2 linked regions of the Homo sapiens genome follow. The protein of the gene in region 2 interacts with the protein of the main gene of each other region in a pairwise test. Each region holds a gene or a part of one and is shown on either strand. Other genes may lie near its edges.

The links.
Region 1: the proteins of RPIA (region 2) and PCMT1 interact in binary tests that used the Homo sapiens proteins (3 or more experiments, as listed by UniProt).

The regions. Positions count from the first base shown.
Region 1 is NC_000006.12:149,808,515-149,812,232, reverse strand, and holds the end of PCMT1 (protein-L-isoaspartate(D-aspartate) O-methyltransferase), read right to left. Parts: intron 1,618-3,718; coding exon of another isoform or gene 1,605-1,617; 3' UTR 814-1,604; downstream 1-813. UniProt on the Homo sapiens protein: Initiates the repair of damaged proteins by catalyzing methyl esterification of L-isoaspartyl and D-aspartyl residues produced by spontaneous isomerization and racemization of L-aspartyl and L-asparaginyl residues in aging peptides and proteins.
Region 2 is NC_000002.12:88,729,673-88,736,672, reverse strand, and holds part of RPIA (ribose-5-phosphate isomerase), read right to left. Parts: intron 2,122-7,000; coding exon 2,057-2,121; intron 1,471-2,056; coding exon of another isoform or gene 1,455-1,470; exon of another isoform or gene 1,374-1,454; intron 1,005-1,373; coding exon 936-1,004; intron 139-935; coding exon 1-138. UniProt on the Homo sapiens protein: Catalyzes the reversible conversion of ribose-5-phosphate to ribulose 5-phosphate and participates in the first step of the non-oxidative branch of the pentose phosphate pathway.

The sequences.
Region 1 (3,718 bases), on a different chromosome or scaffold from region 2:
TTCCCAAGTAGCTGGGATTACAGGTGTGTGCCACCATGCCCAGCTAATTTTTGTATTTTTAGTAGAGAGGGGTAGAGAGGGGATTTCATCATGTTGGCCAGGCTGGTCTTGAACTCCTGACCTCAGGTGATCTGCCCATCTCAGCCTCCCAAAGTGCTGGGATTACAGGCGTGAGCCACCGCACCCAGCCTAAAAGCCATTTGTAAAGAAGTAATATTTAAGACTTTTTTCAAGAGCTGGGGGGAGTGTTCACATGCCCACGAAGGTTCTTTGCCAGAATTACGCACCCACACATGCACCCAGTAGAAGGGCTTTGCTGGGAGTGCTGATTCTGCTCATTCTGGAGCTTATATTTCCTCAGTTCCAGAACTACTTCTTATAAAAGTTATAAATCACAACATTTAAATAAGATCCCAAAGTGCTACTGCCTTCTTAGAAATTCAGCTATAGTCATTATATTAATAAATCTTTGTATAGGTGAGAGATGGGTTTTGGTCTGTTCACCCTCAATCCTGTTCTTTCCTGACTTTAAGTCGATTCATTCACCACTCACTCACTCACCAGCATTTACTGTATAGCTACTACAGGGCAAGCCCTGGGCTAGGGAGTCAAAGAGAAATGACGACTGAAGTACGGTCCTGGCCCTGGAGCAGTGTAGTCACATTCTACAATGTACAGTTGGATTAATGCTAATTACTTACTCAGACTTCGCAAAAGGAAACAACCAGAGAAACAGTCTTTTTCCCATGATCGTAAACACTCCCTATCTGGTGGACTTGCTGTTCTTCCTTCTATATTCAAAAACAACCAATGCCTCTTTTACTTTTAACTTTATTTGGCAAAGCAGCACTGCATAAACTGTTCAAGAACTAGGACACAGCTTACACAGCATGTTAAGTTCATATACATTATCAGCAGCAAATTAGAAACAGAAAACCACACTAAACTACAAGTCTCCTATAATTTTGAGAGAGAGAGAAGGGAAGAACTAAGTCAGTTATGTCCAATCTGAACAGCTGAGTGTTTACAGGACATCACCTGCCATCTTATGGTTTAATATTTACAAATGCCTAGTTTTAAGGTAACAAAGCAGCTGATTGTATCTACAACATGCTATTCTATGACACCACATCAAAAGCTTTAAAAAGAAAGCTCATCTCTATTTTCTTAGTAGCATCTAACAGATATCCAAATACCAAGAATCTTAACTTGTGAATGGTGGTGTTATCCAATGCACAAAAGCAATCTGATAAATTAATATCAGAACAGAATTAAGTGTCCAAGAAAAGAAAAACCACTCCTCAAAATCAATTCACAAACTAAGTTTTCCATTTTACAGAACCCTTTCTTTTAATATTTCCAAGTAAAATATGGGCATGTTAAAGTAATATTACACAAATTTATACTTTGCATCCTTCCTCTACCAATTTGGCTCTGTGCCTCTTTGAAGAATCAGAAACCCTAAAAAAACACACATTTTCATGCTGAAAATAACAGTGTAACAAAGTCCAAAACAAGCTGTGATGGTGTTGGTTTTCAAAAAGCTTTGAGGACTGAGATGAGCAATCCACTGTAATTTTATACTGGTCAAGCTGATGTTGCTTTTACAATTCATCCCTGTGAGGAAAAAAGAGAGAAATACATTAGTAGGAGTTACACACTACCCAATTTGGCTTTATAATAGTTTAGACACAACTATTAAGTCAATAAAAATGCGCTGATCACCAAGCAATATATTTAAAAAATAAAAATGCAAACAACCCAAGTGAAAGCAACAGAGGGTCAGCCATTCCAAACATCTTCCATGCCACTCCAGAACCAAGTATGCAACCTAAAGGGCGTGAGTTCTTCATTTTTGATTTCTAAAAATAGATTTCTTCCTTCAATGTCAAAATTCAGAAAAAATATCTTTTAGATCTACGGTCATCTTTACACTATAGTAAAATGACAACTTAAGTGTTTTAGAGTTCAAATGAGTTGATAGTTACATTCACAAAATTGGACAGAAATGTGGTCTTTTGCTCAGAATGTCCACTAGCAATTGTGGAGTGGGTCAATCTCAACCCAAGCGCTCTGAGAGAAAAGGCATCATCTGTAGGTATAATATACCTGTCAGCTGATTTCATAAGGCAGCTTTATCAGCTCCAAAAGAAACCATTCACTCAGCCAGGTGCAGCACTGTACCAGCAACTGCCAGTGAGAGGAAGGAAGGAATAAAAATGCAGTCTAAAATAAACTGTATGGTATCTCAGTTATACCTCAGTAAAACTGTTAAAAGTGAAAAAATGAATAAAACCACGAGAGAAGCCCACAAGCCTCATAGCTGAAGGTAATGTGAGTGACAAAAACAAGAACTTTAGGGGTAAAGAAGCATGATATTGATAATTAAGTCTCAAGTGGTTTAAGAAAAAGGAAAAAAATTACATATATGTATATATAGAAAGAGGGGAAAGAAATGTAGAAAAATGATAATAATTGATGACTCTGGATGAAGAGATTTAGGAGTTATTTGTACTATCCTAGCAACTTGTTGGCAATAAAAATTAAAGTTAAAAGTTTTGAAAAAGTTGTTAAGATAAATTTGAAGGGAAGAAGAAATAAAGAGCTCATAATTTCACAAGTAAGTGGGGGTAAATTACTGGACAATTTTTTTAAACTAAATTTTGTAAATTGTGCAAGAAAATATTTTTAAAATCATTTCTCCAATAAGCTGCCTTTATCCTATAGTATTGGATTATCTATTAAATGACAAATCATAAGTCTGCTTCCTCTTAATATATTCTTCCAAATAACAATGTTATAATTCTCATAGAACAGCTTTTACTTAACTCATGCAGGCATTAAAATATTTGGTCAACAAAGAATTATTTGCAAAGTGCTCTATTCATAAAGTAAAATTCACTTCTGCTTTTTAGAATATGAACTGAAGATATTGTTTTTCTTGTTTTGGCTTTTTTTTTTTTTTTTTTTTTTTGAGACAGAGTCTCGCTCTGTCACCTAGGCTGGAGTGCAGTGGTGTGATCATGGCTCACTGCAACCTCTGCCTCCCAGGTTCCAGCAATTCTCCTGCCTCAGCCTCCCGAGTCGCTGGGATTACAGGCAGGCACCACCATACCCGGCTAAATTTTTTTTGTATTATTAGTAGAGACAGGGTTTCACCACGTTGCTCAGGCTGGTCTCGAACTCCTGACCTCAAGTGATCTGCCCACCTCAGCCTCCCAAAGTGCTGGGATTACAGGTGTGAGCCACCATGCCCAAGCCAAAGATATTGTTATTTTTAAATAATTTACTACAATTTGCCAGGGGCAGTGGCTCACACCTGTAATCCCAGCACTTTGGGAGGCCAAGGCGGGCGGATCATGAGGTCAGGAGATCGAGACCATCCTGGCTAACATGGTGAAACCTCGTCTCTACTAAAAATACAAATAATTAGCCGGGTGTGGTGGCATGCACCTGTAATCCTAGCTATTCGGGAGGCTGAGGCAGGAGAATCGCTTAAACCAGGGAGGCGGAGGTTGCAGCAAGCTGAGATCACGCCACTGCACTCCAGCCTGAGCGACAGAGCGAGACTCCATCTCAGAAAACAATAATAATAATAATAATTTACTACAATTTACCTGCTGCAAGACATTAAGTATACTGTAAATAAATTAATGCCCCCTCAACAACATAGGTACCATTTTTCCAACTATCCTCTCTGTCTAAAAAATACTTTAAA
Region 2 (7,000 bases):
TTGTTGACAGCCATTCGAAGTTCAACCACGCCCCCAAACTTCTGGCTCACAGCTCGGCTCACTGGGACATAGGCCATTGGGATGACCTCGATGGGGATTCCCTTGTGCCACTGATCCCCGAGATTCTTCGAATCTTTCCTGGAAAGAAGGAGTCAGAAAGTACAATAAAAGTAAATAAGCTCAACAGTACAGGCAAACACCAAATTCAGGAACAGGGTTAATGAGATGGTGGGAAGGCAAGGAAAGTGATCAAGGGCAATATACATGGGGCTACAAATGAATTAGCTGTTTCACTATATAGGAAAAGAGCTATTTGAAATAAATATGACAAAAATGTTAAAATCTGATATTGCTGGCTTGTGGGTATGTAGGTGTTTAATATTTATGCTCGTCCTGTGGCTATATTTCACAAGTAAATATACACATACACATATTTGAAATTAACATGCTCAGCACAAGTGCTTTTGACTACATTCCTTGAAGGAGCATCTGAGAGCCTGGTCAAAGACTATCAATGACACCAGTCACCTGCGGCAAACCCTGACCCGAGAAGAAGCAGGGTATGCTGAGTCACTGCCCGTGGGCAGGGCACACCCTGCCTCCTCTGAGGCTCCCTGTGAGGATCCAGTGAGTGACATGACACATGAGAGCATGCTCTGCTAACAGGGTGACAAGCTGTTTCCCCGTTCCACTGAACACATGAAACGATGCTAGAGATCCTGGCTGCGGATAACAGTGCTGTGATTAGCAACATCTACCTTCAGCCTACAAGCAGAACATAAGGTCTCCTAGACACTGTACTAAGTCCTAGCCATCAGTCTCAGAAAGTCAGACAGTCCCTGCAGCTCTCCATTTCCTCTTTCACAAAAATGGGGATGCGGCTTGGGGATCCAATCTACCTCCTCAGTTGGCAGCTCAGACACCAGAAACTGTACCTGAAATCAGCGATCACGATGAAGCGACTAGCATAGCCAGCCACAATCTTCTCCTGGGTCAGGCAGCCTCTGCAGGAAAGAAGCAAAGGAACACAGGAGTAAGACAAAAATCTCAGTTTGGGAACTAAGGTTAAATACAGGAATCCCAAATCCACTCAATCCTGGCACTTAAAGAGAAACTTAACTTTTAATTTTTAAAGGGACATCCCCAGTCCCATCATGCTGCTCCTAGTAAATGGACTCTAGAAACATTACCCCTGTCTGGGAGAAACCTAGAAAGCAGACAAGGTTCCCATTCAGGCCAGGCATAATTCCATCCAAATGTGTCTGAGAGGGAGCATTGTGTTCAGGGAGATGTCATCTGGACATGGCATGAATGGGAGGGTCTAGAAGCTGAGGAGGGCACGCTTTGAACAACCCGCCCAGTCGACTACTTGCCAATGAGGGTGATGAAGTGGAGAGAGCCCAGAGCACTGAATCAGCAGATTTGGGTCCAGGTCTACCTCTAGGGTTTAGCAGCTAAACTATCTCACATCTGCAGTTGACAGGATTAAGTAACACGTAAGAAAATCTAATAAACAGTAAAGTGTGATTTTAAACAAATGCTGCATCACTCAATAGTCTGCTTGATTATAAGAACCAGCAGAACAGGATTTCACCTTTTTCAACTCACCATTCCCACCACTCCCCAAATCAGCACTTAAGAAATACCCAATTAATGTTTTCCAAAGGAACAAATAATATCCCTAACTGCTCACAGAAGTAAGCACAGCTTTAAAGCAAAAGTCACACACTGGTGCCCACAGACCTAACAATCTAGCCCAGTATTATTTTGATTTGGCCTTAAGTTTTTAAAGTCTGAATCAACAAAAGAACACAAATCCACAGAGAATCCATTACGATGAATGATCTCACTAAAGAGGCCCAGGTTCCTTGTCAGTAAATTGCTGCTAATGACCAGAAATGCTGAGTTGGGTCTAAGGCCATATGCTATCAATATCCTAGGAGAAAGACAAACTTGCATATGTCACAGTGGCAATTTGTTTATTCTGTATCCATCTTGCTTTGCTAAGGATTAACTGGCAGATACTCTTTAGCACAGAAGCCCCCACAACACTCACCCGCCACCCTTGATGAGATTGAGATCAGCATCTACTTCATCAGCACCATCGATGGCAAGGTCGATCTGTATTGGGGGAAAGGTAAAGATACAAAAACCACTCGAGGGGAGCCTCTGCTAATTGCCTGAGCATGCGATAGCTCATCAGATACTCAGCAGCCCTGTTAGCTAATTCTAGTACTCCCATTTAGCAAATCAAGAAATTGAGCTACAAGAGGTTAAGCTGCTCCACTAGGATCAAAGGGAAACAGCACAGGACTTGGGACTCTAACCGGGATGCAGTTCTTACCCACAAGACTATGTTCCCTTTTCTCATTGATGGGCTTCTCTGTGGACAAGCTGGCGTTATTTAGAGCACGTGTTCTCAGTGTGGGTGCTATCACCTCCCCCAAGAGGCAAAAATTAGTTTTTGGTGGGGGAATAAAAAATCTTAGACATTACAATGAGTTTTGTCCCACCAAAGGGCCAATACAGTAATATCTGTGCTACTAAATTCCACTGGGGGTGGGAAAAATGCAAAAAAAAAAAACTGATTCAGAAGTCTCTGTACTAACTGTGAGCAACCTCACAGGCAATTTTAAGTGGACATGAGGATCAAATGAAGAGATACACAAGAAAGCTGATGAGTTCCCGAACTGGAAATTACTGGGGCATTGCCACTAAGACCCCACTTGTCTGGGCTTGCCCGCTCCCTCTATTAGGAAGCTCCACCACAAGCCCCAAAAGCAGTTGAGGGGCAAATGGGTTCATCTAGCTTTTAAAAATCAAAATCAAGAAAGTTACACATTTCTCATCACTCATGGTACTCTGCATGGACATTGTAGGAACCCCGAGTATATTTTTAAAGACAGCAAGTAGTATGCAGGGTACAAATTCTATTCATGGTGCAGTTACTAAGTTGCTTGGCATGGCTGGCATGGCACAGGTATAAAAAATACAGTTTCATATGGGTCATGCTTGCTTCCAGCCTTTTACAGATTCCAGCCTTTGTCTGAAGTTACAGCAGGCACTGCTCTCCCCAGGCCTGCATTAACCCCAGAGCCAGGCTGCACTCTGGCAATTCTCAGGGGTATGGAAAGTGGCAACCTTTTCTGTCTGGGCTCCAGGCCCACCTTCAGCCCAAACCACTCTCTTCACAGCTGCTGAACACATGATCAGCCTGTGCCCCTGGCTCTGCCCACAGAAATCCCCAAGTCCTTCCCATAGTTCTTACTAACCCCTGTGAGGCCCATGTGTATGACAGAAACATGGGCTACCAGATCACCATCAAGTCTCAACCTGCCTGGTTTTCCAGGTGCCATAAAACCACCCCACTTTTCCTATCCAGCTTTGCTTTCCCTCTCCCCACTATGCACCAACGCAGTACACTCACTCTGTCCTATCACCCCAGCCAGTCCGAGCAGTGTCCATTTGCCCACATGGAGCTGTTCCTGTGGTTCCCGTCTACCACTCTCTGGAATGTTCTCTCCTGCCCCTGCCACCTGGCCTTTATAGCCCAATTCAAACTTTACCTCTTCCCAAAAAACTCAAACTAGCATTAGTCTAGAAAAGATGTGCCTGAGTTCAAATTCTGATTCTGCCACTTAAAACCTGTGGCATTAGCCATATGACTTACCCTCTCTGTGCCTTTTTCACATCTATAAAATGGGAAAATTGTGGTATCCTATCTTCAAGAATACTGGAAATAAAACAGTTTAATACAGGTACAGCACTTAGCACAAAAGCTGGTACATAATAATGGCTCAGAAAATGCCAGGTAGGGTTTGTGATGTTGCTCACCCTCACCAACATCAGTCTCCTCTGGACTGCCCCTGTGTTAGTCTTTACCACAAAACTTAGTTTTAATATTTTCTTTTTTTTTTTTTTTTTTTTTTTTTTTTTTTTTTTTTATTATACTCTAAGTTTTAGGGTACATGTGCACATTGTGCAGGTTAGTTACATATGTATACATGTGCCATGCTGGTGCGCTGCACCCACTAATGTGTCATCTAGCATTAGGTATATCTCCCAATGCTATCCCTCCCCCCTCCCCCGACCCCACCACAGTCCCCAGAGTGTGATATTCCCCTTCCTGTGTCCATGTGATCTCATTGTTCAATTCCCACCTATGAGTGAGAATATGCGGTGTTTGGTTTTTTGTTCTTGCGATAGTTTACTGAGAATGATGGTTTCCAATTTCATCCATGTCCCTACAAAGGATATGAACTCATCATTTTTTATGGCTGCATAGTATTCCATGGTGTATATGTGCCACATTTTCTTAATCCAGTCTATCATTGTTGGACATTTGGGTTGGTTCCAAGTCTTTGCTATTGTGAATAGTGCCGCAATAAACATACGTGTGCATGTGTCTTTATAGCAGCATGATTTATACTCATTTGGGTATATACCCAGTAATGGGATGGCTGGGTCAAATGGTATTTCTAGTTCTAGATCCCTGAGGAATCGCCACACTGACTTCCACAATGGTTGAACTAGTTTACAGTCCCACCAACAGTGTAAAAGTGTTCCTATTTCTCCGCATCCTCTCCAGCACCTGTTGTTTCCTGACTTTTTAATGATTGCCATTCTAACTGGTGTGAGATGATATCTCATAGTGGTTTTGATTTGCATTTCTCTGATGGCCAGTGATGATGAGCATTTCTTCATGTGTTTTTTGGCTGCATAAATGTCTTCTTTTGAGAAGTGTCTGTTCATGTCCTTCACCCACTTTTTGATGGGGTTGTTTGTTTTTTTCTTGTAAATTTGTTTGAGTTCATTGTAGATTCTGGATATTAGCCCTTTGTCAGATGAGTAGGTTGCGAAAATTTTCTCCCATGTTGTAGGTTGCCTGTTCACTCTGATGGTAGTTTCTTTTGCTGTGCAGAAGCTCTTTAGTTTAATTAGATCCCATTTGTCAATTTTGTCTTTTGTTGCCATTGCTTTTGGTGTTTTGGACATGAAGTCCTTGCCCACGCCTATGTCCTGAATGGTAATGCCTAGGTTTTCTTCTAGGGTTTTTATGGTTTTAGGTTTAACGTTTAAATCTTTAATCCATCTTGAATTGATTTTTGTATAAGGTGTAAGGAAGGGATCCAGTTTCAGCTTTCTACATATGGCTAGCCAGTTTTCCCAGCACCATTTATTAAATAGGGAATCCTTTCCCCATTGCTTGTTTTTCTCAGGTTTGTCAAAGATCAGATAGTTGTAGATATGCGGCATTATTTCTGAGGGCTCTGTTCTGTTCCATTGATCTATATCTCTGTTTTGGTACCAGTACCATGCTGTTTTGGTTACTGTAGCCTTGTAGTATAGTTTGAAGTCAGGTAGTGTGATGCCTCCAGCTTTGTTCTTTTGGCTTAGGATTGACTTGGCAATGCGGGCTCTTTTTTGGTTCCATATGAACTTTAAAGTAGTTTTTTCCAATTCTGTGAAGAAAGTCATTGGTAGCTTGATGGGGATGGCATTGAATCTGTAAATTACCTTGGGCAGTATGGCCATTTTCACGATATTGATTCTTCCTACCCATGAGCATGGAATGTTCTTCCATTTGTTTGTGTCCTCTTTTATTTCCTTGAGCAGTGGTTTGTAGTTCTCCTTGAAGAGGTCCTTCACATCCCTTGTAAGTTGGATTCCTAGGTATTTTATTCTCTTTGAAGCAATTACGAATGGGAGTTCACCCATGATTTGGCTCTCTGTTTGTCTGTTGTTGGTGTATAAGAATGCTTGTGATTTTTGTACATTGATTTTGTATCCTGAGACTTTGCTGAAGTTGCTTATCAGCTTAAGGAGATTTTGGGCTGAGACGATGGGGTTTTCTAGATATACAATCATGTCGTCTGCAAACAGGGACAATTTGACTTCCTCTTTTCCTAATTGAATACCCTTTATTTCCTTCTCCTGCCTGATTGCCCTGGCCAGAACTTCCAACACTATGTTGAATAGGAGCGGTGAGAGAGGGCATCCCTGTCTTGTGCCGGTTTTCAAAGGGAATGCTTCCAGTTTTTGCCCATTCAGTATGATATTGGCTGTGGGTTTGTCATAGATAGCTCTTATTATTTTGAAATACGTCCCATCAATACCTAATTTATTGAGAGTTTTTAGCATGAAGGGTTGTTGAATTTTGTCAAAGGCTTTTTCTGCATCTATTGAGATAATCATGTGGTTTTTGTCTTTGGCTCTGTTTATATGCTGGATTACATTTATTGATTTGCGTATATTGAACCAGCCTTGCATCCCAGGGATGAAGCCCACTTGATCATGGTGGATAAGCTTTTTGATGTGCAACTGGATTCGGTTTGCCAGTATTTTATTGAGGATTTTTGCATCAATGTTCATCAAGGATATTGGTCTAAAATTCTCTTTTTTGGTTGTGTCTCTGCCCGGCTTTGGTATCAGAATGATGCTGGCCTCATAAAATGAGTTAGGGAGGATTCCCTCTTTTTCTATTGATTGGAATAGTTTCAGAAGGAATGGTACCAGTTCCTCCATGTACCTCTGGTAGAATTCGGCTGTGAATCCATCTGGTCCTGGACTCTTTTTGGTTGGTAAACTATTGATTATTGCCACAATTTCAGAGCCTGTTATTGGTCTATTCAGAGATTCAACTTCTTCCTGGTTTAGTCTTGGGAGAGTGTATGTGTCGAGGAATGTATCCATTTCTTCTAGATTTTCTAGTTTATTTGCGTAGAGGTGTTTGTAGTATTCTCTGATGGTAGTTTGTATTTCTGTGGGATCGGTGGTGATATCCCCTTTATCATTTTTTATTGTGTCTATTTGATTCTTCTCTCTTTTTTTCTTTATTAGTCTTGCTAGCGGTCTATCAATTTTGTTGATCCTTTCAAAAAACCAGCTCCTGGATTCATTGATTTTTTGAAGGGTTTTTTGTGTCTCTATTTCCTTCAGTTCTGCTTAGTTTTAATATTTTCAAATGTCCATGGCTGCCTCAGATGATTCTTCCTTATTT